Regions from separate parts of the Homo sapiens genome. Here region 1 is linked to region 2. The links come from fine-mapping of genetic effects on plasma protein levels. Region 2 holds a variant in brackets. A gene starts in the other region. All regions are shown on their reverse strands.

The links. PIP is the chance, under the fine-mapping model, that this variant and not a neighbour inherited with it causes the effect. Protein levels are from antibody-based Olink assays in UK Biobank. Linkage for the fine-mapping came from a reference panel and not from the study's own genotypes, which makes the PIPs less certain.
Region 1: it holds the start of C4BPB, and the variant in region 2 is fine-mapped to the plasma level of the C4BPB protein (UK Biobank, PIP 0.92).

The regions. Positions count from the first base shown.
Region 1 is chr1:207,084,929-207,090,281 of GRCh38, reverse strand. It overlaps C4BPB (complement component 4 binding protein beta), which reads right to left and starts at 1,422. Exons shown (of 7, transcript NM_001017365.3): 1 at 1,336-1,422; 2 at 693-800. The coding sequence starts at 750. RefSeq lists an enhancer at 5,120-5,329.
Region 2 is chr3:94,108,061-94,113,444 of GRCh38, reverse strand. The region is part of intron 5 of NSUN3 (NOP2/Sun RNA methyltransferase 3); the gene reads right to left. Among named protein-coding and RNA genes, the nearest start is that of NSUN3, 48 kb to the right of the region's middle. The variant C/T (reference allele first, on the strand shown) is at 2,627.

The sequences.
Region 1 (5,353 bases), not on the chromosome of region 2:
CTTGGCATATCATGTGCTGTCAGAGAACCCTTATTAGATTTCCCCATTCTCATGTCTTTTTGCTGGATTATTGATCCTGATTCCTGTGCTCTTCCCAAGTACTCTGTATTCTACTCCCAAGTAGCCGGGACTACAGGCACCCGCCACCACGCCCAGCTAATTTTTTGTATTTTCAGCAGAGACGGGGTTTCACTGTCTTAGCCAGGATGGTCTCGATCTCTTGACCTCGTGATCCGCCCACCTCGGCCTCTCAAAGTGCCGGGATTACAGGCTTGAGCCGCTGCGCCCGGCCGGAATTCCGAAGTTTTATTTTCAAAAGTATAACAGGAATTTTACTCAAATTCAACCACAAGTTGTCCACTTCTAAACAAATAGTCCCCTACACAAATAGCGATCCTGGAGTTTATAACAAGTAAGACCTCCCAGGATTTTGAAATTGGTACTCTTTTTGCTCCCAGAACAGAAAGGGAAAGTAAAAAAACAGTAACCACCCACTTCAGAGATCAGGGTTATCATTAAATGTACACTAAGCTCCTATTGAGTGCAGAGCATTAGGCCAATTTGAGATTTTTCAATAGAAGAATAAAGATATTATAAATGTAAACTTCCTTAAAGCCCTAGACAGAGTTCCTCAAAACACCGCAAAAGGACACCAAATGCCTGTAAGCTGAGTTGAAGGAAAGCATACGTACCATCTGAAGCAGAAACTCGCCACGCAACCATAAGACAGCACGCACACCAAAAAAACATCTGGTGATCAAAGTCCTCTCCCCAGGCTGGAATTCACCCAGCTCAGACACCTGGTTTGAAAAAAAATAGATCTTCTAACACTGCTTAAGACCAACCTAACCACCTCCTCTCTAGAGAAGAGGTTATATTGATTTACCCTCCCTGGAGAAAATGAAAAGAAAAAATCTTACGACAGGAAATCAGAACAGCTGTAAGGAAGCTGGTATAGGGAGGAACTGCAAAAATACAAAGGGATGGTAAAAGAGTTGCCAGGTTTAAAACTCAGTTTCAGAAATTTCCTGGTTTCTGGGAATGCAAATCCAGTTGACCAGTCTTTTTGAAACGCAGGCTTATCCTTCCCCAACAAACATGGGCCAAATGGTCTTGCCATGACCTTGACTTCTGTCAATAGTTGCCAATGTTTACAGTCCAACTTCTGTAACTCTGGCCAGCACTGGGGAAAGAGAACGGGCTGTCAATCCCTGGTTCTTGCCCAGGTAGAACACAATTTTGAATGCTACCTCATCCTCCTTTCCTGAATACCAGATATCCTAAGGCTGTAAGCAGCACTGAAGACGAAAGCTCAAGGAAGTAAACTAACCTTACCTGTCTCTGTCCCTCCAGAGTTAGGGCTTCCCAGCAAGGAACTGGTCTTAACTGACTCCAAAGCTGAGAGCTCCAAAGTCCTGCAGTGACACATTGTTCTCGCTTGCCAGGCCTGTACCCAGGCTTCCTACTTTGTGGCTCTTCCAGGGACAGGATTTGGCCTGAGTCCAGAGTTAACCAAATGAGTAAAGAGAGAGGTGAGGAGAATGCTTTGGTCTCAGGAATTAAGGCATGTAAAATTGTTTTGAGGGATCCCATATCATCTTGCTTGTGACTACTATAACCCTTGGTTGGTTCTCTGTGCTGTAATTATGAAACTGGGGAAAAATTCCTACAAAATTTCAGGTTTTAATAGAATAATAAAGCATTAAGGACACAGTAAGGTTGCAAATGTTCTTCTCTTCTCCATCCATTACTACTGTTTGTGATGATTAATCTATGTCTTTCTCCTGAAAGGAATCAGGATATGCCACCCCCAAATATTTGGCGTTAAGATTCTTTTAAGCTGAAGATATTTGAGATTCAGTGATATGGAAAGGAACAGAGATTTTGGGGGCTTTCCTTATCTGACTAAAGGCAGCAACCTTGGAGATAAGGTTGCCATAAATTCCTTTTCAGGGTAGGTCTATCCTGGAGGGGAGAGCATGAGTAAAACATATTTCAAATTCCTTCTCCAGAGAAATTTCATGGCCTTGAAGGAGACAGAAAGAACACTCGTACTTATATACACAAACATTATCACAAAACTTTCTAATTTCCTACTTTTCCCCTGAAAACCCACTTGCCTTTCCAAAAAATAATCTGTTTTCTTTTTTGTTTGAGATGGTGTCTTGGCATGATCTTGGCTCACTGCAACCTCCACCTGCCAGGTTCAGGCCATTCTTGTGCCTCAGTCTCCCGAGTAGCTGAGATTACAGGCATGCGCTACCACGCCTGGCTAATTTTTGTATTTTTAGTAGAGATGGGGTTTCACCATGTTGGCCAAACTGGTCTTGAACTCCTGACCTCAAATGATCCACCCGCCTTGGCCTCCCAAAGTGCTGGGATTATAGGCATGAGCCACCGCACCCGGCCAATAATCTGTTTTCTTGTAAGTGCCTTTCTTCTCCCCACCTTCACCTATTAAGATGATGTATAAGCCCCAATTCTAACCAACTTTTTGAATTACTTATCACTGAGTTTTCCCACATGTACTCAAGTTACATGTATAAATAGAATTTTCTCTCCTGTTAATCTGTCTTAGTCTAATTTGCAGGTCCCAGCCACTGAATACAATATGGTAGAGGAAAGGTGTTTTTTTCCTCCCCTTTATTCCCACAGGAAACTGCTAACTCCAGGACAGGGTTTGTGTCTGATTTGTATTTGTATTCCCTTCCACGGTGCTTCATATTGCAAAGCAGTTGTCTGTTAAATGAATGAAAGTAATGCAGAAATAAATGAAAAAAACTGTCATCCAGAAACTCTACCACAGCCCCCAAAATCCATATGATCACTTGCCATTTATCACATGCTGCCTTATGATTTTTTATGTCTTATCTTTTCTTAACTAATATGCAAATTCCTATAGTGTAAGCACCCTCTAAGACATGATTTTCAAAAAGTTAAAAATATGACACAAGTAAATATAAGATGAATATATATCAAAGATTTAATTCAACTCATTAATTAATGAGGAAACATTCAGATGCTACAACTGGTTCAAAGAAGAATTTGAGGAATAGGAATGCATATAGTCAGTCAGTCAAAAGCATTCTGAAGTGACCTTTCCAATAGATACAAAACTGGTTAATATCCTACAGAGTAACAAACTGTAATATTTGCAATTAGCTTTTCTACCTGGTGGAAAGTAATTAAAACAAAATGGACAAAATATATTTGCTCTACTATAACCAGGAATCATTTGCATTGTTCTCAGATAAGAGTCATTTGCATTCCTATAAATTTACTGCAAATTAACCTCTATGCTTAAAGAGTTCTAAAAGAACTTTAAATAAAGTCAGTCAGAGATCATCTCCAGAGGGCCTGCTAGAAAATGCCCAGGAATCCATTGAGCATTTACTCCAGTGATCTCTTTTTGCTAATCCTAAGCTTTGAATAATTTTTATTTACATACCCCATGTTCTACTTCTTGAGGAATGCATGTTCTTCAGTATCTTTTATAGATTTATATACAGAATGTTTGTACAATAAATTATTTTAAAAAGGAAGGAAAATCTAGTTTAGCCCTACATAAATATGGACATAAAATAGAACATGTATTACAGGAAATAATTGCAAGTAATTCTTCATCTTAATGGCTTACTTCAGATTCAGAACTATAGGACTTTAGAAACCATATCACTTATACTATTGTCTTACTAATATTTCTCCATAAAATATAAAAATACAAAAATATTCACACTAAGTGGGCTCTATAGAGACAATAAATAGCATCACAAAGTTTGGGTCAGGTTTTTTCTGTCAAATGAATTAGAAGAAAACTTTGTCTCAAAGGTTTTTGGATTTTAGAATTAGAGATTAAAGAAAGAAACAGAGAGTGATTGAGAGAGAGAAAGAGAGTAATATGGTGGGTCTTGGGGGAGAGGCAGAATCAGAGATAGATGCAGAGAGATAGAGATGCTTAGGAAGGGGTGTCTGGGGACTCTGAAGGACAAGTCTCCACCTGGCACTGCCATTGTCCCCCGCCCCAATCCCACTCTTCCCTCCTCAGCCCTCTCTCCCCACAGGATGAGCAAGAGCATCAGAGACAGAGATGGAGACAAAAGACAGACAGAGGAGACACTGACAGAGTGAATCAGAGAGAGACAGAGACAGAGGAATTTCTCCTCTTCTCTCTGCCTCCCTCCTCCTCTCCCCAACACCTCCCCCTTCACCACCTTCCTGCCTCCCTCTGCTCCCCTTCCAAGCCTGCATATTCTTCAGGGCTTACCCTCAGCTCCAGGACAGGGTCCTCCTGGGGCTCCTGATGGGTGAATATTTACACCACAAGAGTAAATAAAGATTACAGGCTTATATATTTTACTATTTGTATCCAAAATTAGGCGAATTAATAAATGAGCGTTAGCAGGCTCTTCTATTCCTTTGAACATTAAAAGATAGTTGGATCTATGCCAGATCGTTTCCTGGAGAACTGGGGTAATAGATCAGGTGAAACTGTTGTTCTCAGACTGGCTTCATTGCTTTACAATGGAATGGGCAAGCTGGGCATAGTGGTTCACACCTGTAATCTCAACACTTTGGGAGGCCGAGGCAGGTGGATGGCTTGAGCACAGGAGTTCAAGACCAGCATAGCAAGACCTCATCTCTATAAAAAATAAAATTTTATATATATTAGACAGGCATGGTGGCATGTGCCTGTAGTCCTAGATACTTGGGAGGCTGAGACAGGAGGATCACCTGAGTCCAGGAGATCAAGGCTTCAGTGAGCTGTAATTGCACCACTGCACTCCAGTGTAGGCAACAAAGCAAGAACCTGTTTCAAAAAAACAAATAACAACAAAACACAAAGAAATGGGCAGATGGTAGTTAAAGGAAGAGATCAGGAGGTGAGGAAGGAAGAGTAGAAATATAAAAGTCAGCAATGCCCAATCTGGGGGAAGAGTTGTGGGAAGTTATAAAAGGGGCACACACATTGCAGTGTGTGTAAGATTTTAAGAGAATTCAGGAAAGACTATTTTAAGAAGTTCTACAGGGTGTCATGAATGGATTCCCTTTGGTCTTTGTCAAGAGAATTCAGAAAAGATTTAAATTGCTCTTTTAATGTTTTTTACACGTTGGGTTGATGTTTCCCCAATGCCTGACCAAAACAACCTGGGCCAGAAAAGTGTGGGGGGCGCACAGCCACATACTCAAACTTATGTACAAGGCATTTGAGGTTGGGGCATGGAAAAATGCTGAGGCACTGTGTGTATGTTATTTGTGCATGAGAATATAATTCCTTGACCCTGAAAACAGGACAAGGAGTGGAGTGTGTGATAAGGAACGCTGAAAACAGCCTCCTGAGAATGCGGTTTGAGTG
Region 2 (5,384 bases):
TGTTATATGTTACCTCATTCAATCTTTCAATTAAGTTCTGAGGCATGAATTATTATTCTTACTTTGCAGATGAGAAAACTAAGGCAAGACAGTTATTTGTACAAAATTTCTCTGGAAATGTCCAAACCAGGATTAAAATCCAGGCAATATAGTTCTATAGCTCATACTTTTAATGGCAGTTATCCCCTGCCATTCATTACGTAAGGGCTATGTCAACTACTTCTTGATTATTGTAAAATCTTTCAAACTGGCTTTCTTGCTTAAGAGTTTGGTTATTCTTGGGCCGGGTGCGGTGGCTCACACCTGTAATCCCAGCACTTTGGGAGGCTGAGGTGGGCGGATCATGAGGTCAGGAGATTGAGACCATCCTGGCTAACACAGTGAAACCCTGTCTCTACTAAAAATACAAAAAATTAGCCGGGCATGGTGGCGGGTCCCTGTAGTCCCAGCTACTTGGGAGGCTGAGGCAGGAGAATGGCATGAACCCGGGAGGCAGAACTTGCAGTGAGCCGAGATTGTGCCACTGCACTCCAGCCCGGGCCACAGAGCAAGACTCCGTCTCAAAAAAAAAAGAGTTTTGTTATTCTCTTCACATCTTCCAGCATTACCTGATCAAGGAATTTCCAACTTGTAGCAGACACCTCTAGTTACTCTTCAGTATCTGTTCTCATTTCCTTCCATAGTAATGGGATTTTTAATTGGGCACAGCCAAGGCTAATTTCCTAAACTGCCTTGTAATAACCATAACCATATGACTACGTCTGATCCATGAGATGTGAGTGGAAGTAATGTTGAATTATGCTTTGACTCCTTCCTACTAGTTGCAATGCAGATTAAACAGCAAGAACTGGGATAGCCACCCTGGATTGTGAGGTTGAAGATTAGGCCTGGATCCCTGATGATTCTGGAGTCTGGCCATCTACTGATTACCTAGACAACTCTGGGAAGCCTACTCAGATTCTTATTTAAGTCCCTATTATTTTGAGTCTCTTTCTCTCTCCGTTATATTAGAAGAAAAACTGTCTTAACTAATACTGAATTTGGTACCACGTGGAGTTGTTGTAGCAGAATCTAAGTGAAGAACTGCCTTAATAAACAAGTAACAGAGGGCAAGGTCACAAACACTACAGGTTAGAAAGCCAGTATGATGGCTAGATAATTTATGTTCAACTTGGCTGAACCATGATATTCAGATATTTGGTCAAGTATTATTCTGGGTGTGTCTGTGAGGGTGTTTTTAGATGACAGTAACATCTGAATTGTTAGACTGAGTAAAGCAGATGGCCCTCCATAATGTGGGTGGGCTTCAGTCAGTTGAAGAACTGAATAGAACAAAAGACTGACCTCCCTGGAACAAGATGGAATTCTCCAGCAGATGGCCTTTGCACTTGACCTGCGATGTTGACTCTTCCCTGGGTCTCCAGGCTCTAGCACATCCAGCAAATTTGGGACTTAGCCTTCATAGCTGTATAAGCCAGTTCCTTAAATCTCTCTCTCTCTCTCGATAGAAAGACAGGCAGACAGTGGTCCCATGAGATTATAATGCAGCTGAAAAATTCCTATCATCTAGTATTTACTATACTTTTTATCATTATTTAAGCAGGTCCTCCTTCTTAAAAAAAAAAAAGGTAACTGTAAAACAGCTTCAGACAGATCCTACAGGAGGTTACCAGAAGAAGGTACTGTTATCATAGATGACAGTTCCACACATGCCACTTCCCCTGAAGACCTTCCAGTGGGATAAGACATGGAGGTGGAAGACAGTGATATTGATGATCTTGACCCTGTGCAGGCCTAGGCTAAAGTATGTGTTTGCATCTTAGTTTTTAACAAAAAAGTTTAACAACAACAACAACAAAAAATTAAATTTAAAAATAGAAAAAAACTTATAGAATAAGGATATAAAGAAAGAAAATATTTTTGTACAGCTGTACAATGTTTGTTTTAAGCTTAGTATTAGAAATGTCAAAAAGTTATTAAAAACTTTAAAACTTTATAAAGTAAAAAAGTTACAGTAAGCTAAGGTTAATTTATTACAGAAGAAAGAAAAATATTATTTTATAAATTTAGTGTAGCCTAAGTGTACAGAGTTTATAAACGCTACAGTAGTGTACAGGAATATCCTAGGCCTTCACATTCACTCACCACTCACTCACTGACTCACCCAGAGCAACTTCCAGTCCTGCAAGCTCCCTTCATGGCAAGCTCCTTATACAGGTGTACAATTTTTTTATCTTTTATAGCATATTTTTACTGTACCTTTTCCATTTTGGTATGTTTAGATACACAAATACCACTGTGTTACAACTGCCTACAGTATTCAGTACAGTAACTTGTTGTACAGGTTTATAGCCTAGGAGCAACAGGCTATACCATATAGCCTAGGTGTGTAGTAGTAGGCTGTATCATCTAGGTTTATGTAATCATCTATGTTTGTACTATGATGGCTTCCCAAGGTTGTCCAGGTAATTAGTAGATGGCCAGACTCCAGAATCATCAGGGATCCAGGCCCAATCTTCAACCTCACAATCCAGGGTGGTTATCCCAGTTCTTGCTGTTTAATCTGCATTGCAACTAGTAGGAAGGAGTCAAAGCAGATATACACACACACACACACACACACACA[C/T]ATATATGTATATATGTGCATACATATATATGTGTGTGTATATATATATGCGTGTGTGTGTGTGTGTGTGTGTGTGTGTGTGTATACATGTATATCTCCACTCTTTTTCTCTGGAGAACTCTAATATAGTCAGTGATTCTTACTGTGCCATGCCAAAACATTTAATAAAATCATTGTTTATGATATCGTGGAAGAGAGACTATATACTAACAACATTTACATAACTCTAGGATAACTAGAAGAAAATTGTAACATGTTAGTGTATGTTAATGAGAGAAAGCTCAGGAAAGATCTGAGGGATTTGGATGCTGAGATGGAAGAACACAGCTCTGCTCAGGAATGCTCTCTGTGTGTTGAAATCCAAGCCTACTGAGAATTCAGCAATTTGGGCCTCACAGGGTTGAAAAGATTTTGTAACCCAAAGTTATCACTGATAACTTCCTATCACTGAAAGTTATCACTGATAACTTCCTATCACTGAAAGTTATCACTGATAACTTCCTATCAATGAAAGTTATCACTGATAACTTCCTATCACTGAAAGTTATCACTGATAACTTCCTATCACTGAAAGTTATCACTGATAACTTTCTATCACTGAAAGTTATCTCTAAGGAGGCAGCTCTTCCAGGAATAATACAGTGGCCTCAAGCCTTATTCATGCACTTCTAAGTAAATGTTCTTGTCCAGACAATGGGAGTTAAGCCAAAAGCAAAAATACCACTTTTACACCTGACCCAATAAAAAGGAGCAAACTTTTGAGACACACACTATGAATAAACTTCAAAAATACTATGCTGAGAGAAAAATTCCAGATAAAAGAGTACATGCTATTTCATTACCTTTTTAAGTTTGAGAACAGGCAAAACTAATCTATGGTAAAAAGAAATCAGAAAAATAACTGCTTTTGATGAAGGGAACAATGAATTCTGAAGGCGTACTCAGAATCTTTCTGGGGTAATAAAATGTCATATATCTTGGTAACTTTGCTATGTAATCGTCAAAAACTCCTTGAGCTTAGTGTACACATATATTGTTACACATCCAGTGGCTCAACATGTAGGTAAGGGCAGCAACTGTGCCCACAGCTCCTCCAGGAATCACAGGACCTTCCTTCAGCTCTTCCAAATTCTGGACCAGGTTCCTGTGCAGGTCCATGGTGGAATCCACCAACTTTTCTGCAGATCGCTCACATCATCAAACCGGATGTGCAGAGAAGAGACGTGTTTCATCTTTTGTCTTCGTGGATTCTAGTGTGTCTTTTACTCCCCGCTAACCTCACGTGCTAACTGCCAGCCCTGCTCACTTAAAGCCTACCACCAGAAGCAGTGACGCAATAAAACAGACTACTTAAACAGCTCCCTTAATTAAATAATATCTAATTCCAATAATAAATCTCTTATATCATTTGTGGAGATTTTACTCTGACCAAACTCCGATACATAGCTAGCAATACTTCTGCCCCTTCAAAGCAAGATAGACACTCTTGTGTAATTAACTACCAAATCAAGGAATTAAAATTATTTGCCTCTTCTTTCTAGATGCTCAGAAAGTTCTAATGCTTACACAAATTGCCACAAAAATCATAAAATTTCCTTTTAACTAGGTGAATGAGCTTGTAGTCACTTAGAAAAAAAGTGAATAAAAATGGTCTCTTCACCTAGACCCACTTCAGAGCTCAGTCTTTGAAACTTTCATTGATTCTCCATGGAATTTCTCCCTATTCTGTTTTTCCCAAGGAATAAATTTTTAGCTGCTTGAAAACAGGGTTTGTGTTGCATTCATTTTGTATTTTTTACATACAGCACAACCGGAAACTATATTTTTATAACATATTTATTAAATAAATGAATGGGCTGGGTGCAGTGGCTCACGCCAGTAATCCCAGCACTTTGGGAGGCCGAGTTGGGTGAATCACCTGAGGTCAGGAGTTCGAGACCAGCCTGACCAACATGGTGAAACCCCGTCTCTACTAAATACAAAAAATTAGCCAGGTGTTGTGGTGGGTGCCTATAATCTCAGCTACTTGGGAGGCTGAGGCAGGAGAATTGATGGAACCCGGGAGGCCTCCGCCTTAGTGAGCAGCAAGCTGAGATTGTGCCATTGCACTCCAGCCTGGGCAACAGAGCAAGACTGTGTCTCAAAAAAATAAAATAAAAAGGCCAGGCGCGGTGGCTCACACCTGTAATCCCAGCACTTTGGGAAGCTGAGGTGGGTGGATCACAAGGTCAAGAGATCAAGACCATCCTGGCCCAAATGGTGAAACCCCCATCTCTACTAAAAGTACAAAAACAGCTGGGCATGGTGGCGTGCGCCTGTAGTCCCAGCTACTCGGGAGGCTGAGGCAGGAGAATCACTTGAACCTGAAAGGCGGAGGTTGCAGTGAGCCAAGATCGTGCCACTGCACTCCAGCCTGGCAACAGAGCAAGACTCCGTCTCAAAATAAAATAAAACAAACAAACAAAAAACAAATAAATGCTACCTTTATTAAGAGGCAGGTCAGGAAGAGAATTTTCAGTGTAAAACAAAGAAAATATATTTAATTGAAACTAACAAAAATTCTGAATAGAGTTCTGCACATGTATCACAGAACTTAAAGTATAATAATAAAAAAAAGTAAACGTGGTGAAATGTAAAACAGTTGATGAATCTCTATAAAGAGCACACAGGAGCTCCTTGTACTATTCTTACATTTTTTTCTAAGTTTAAAATTATATCAAAATAAAAATTTTATCAAAAAAAATTCTGAGTAGAGAAT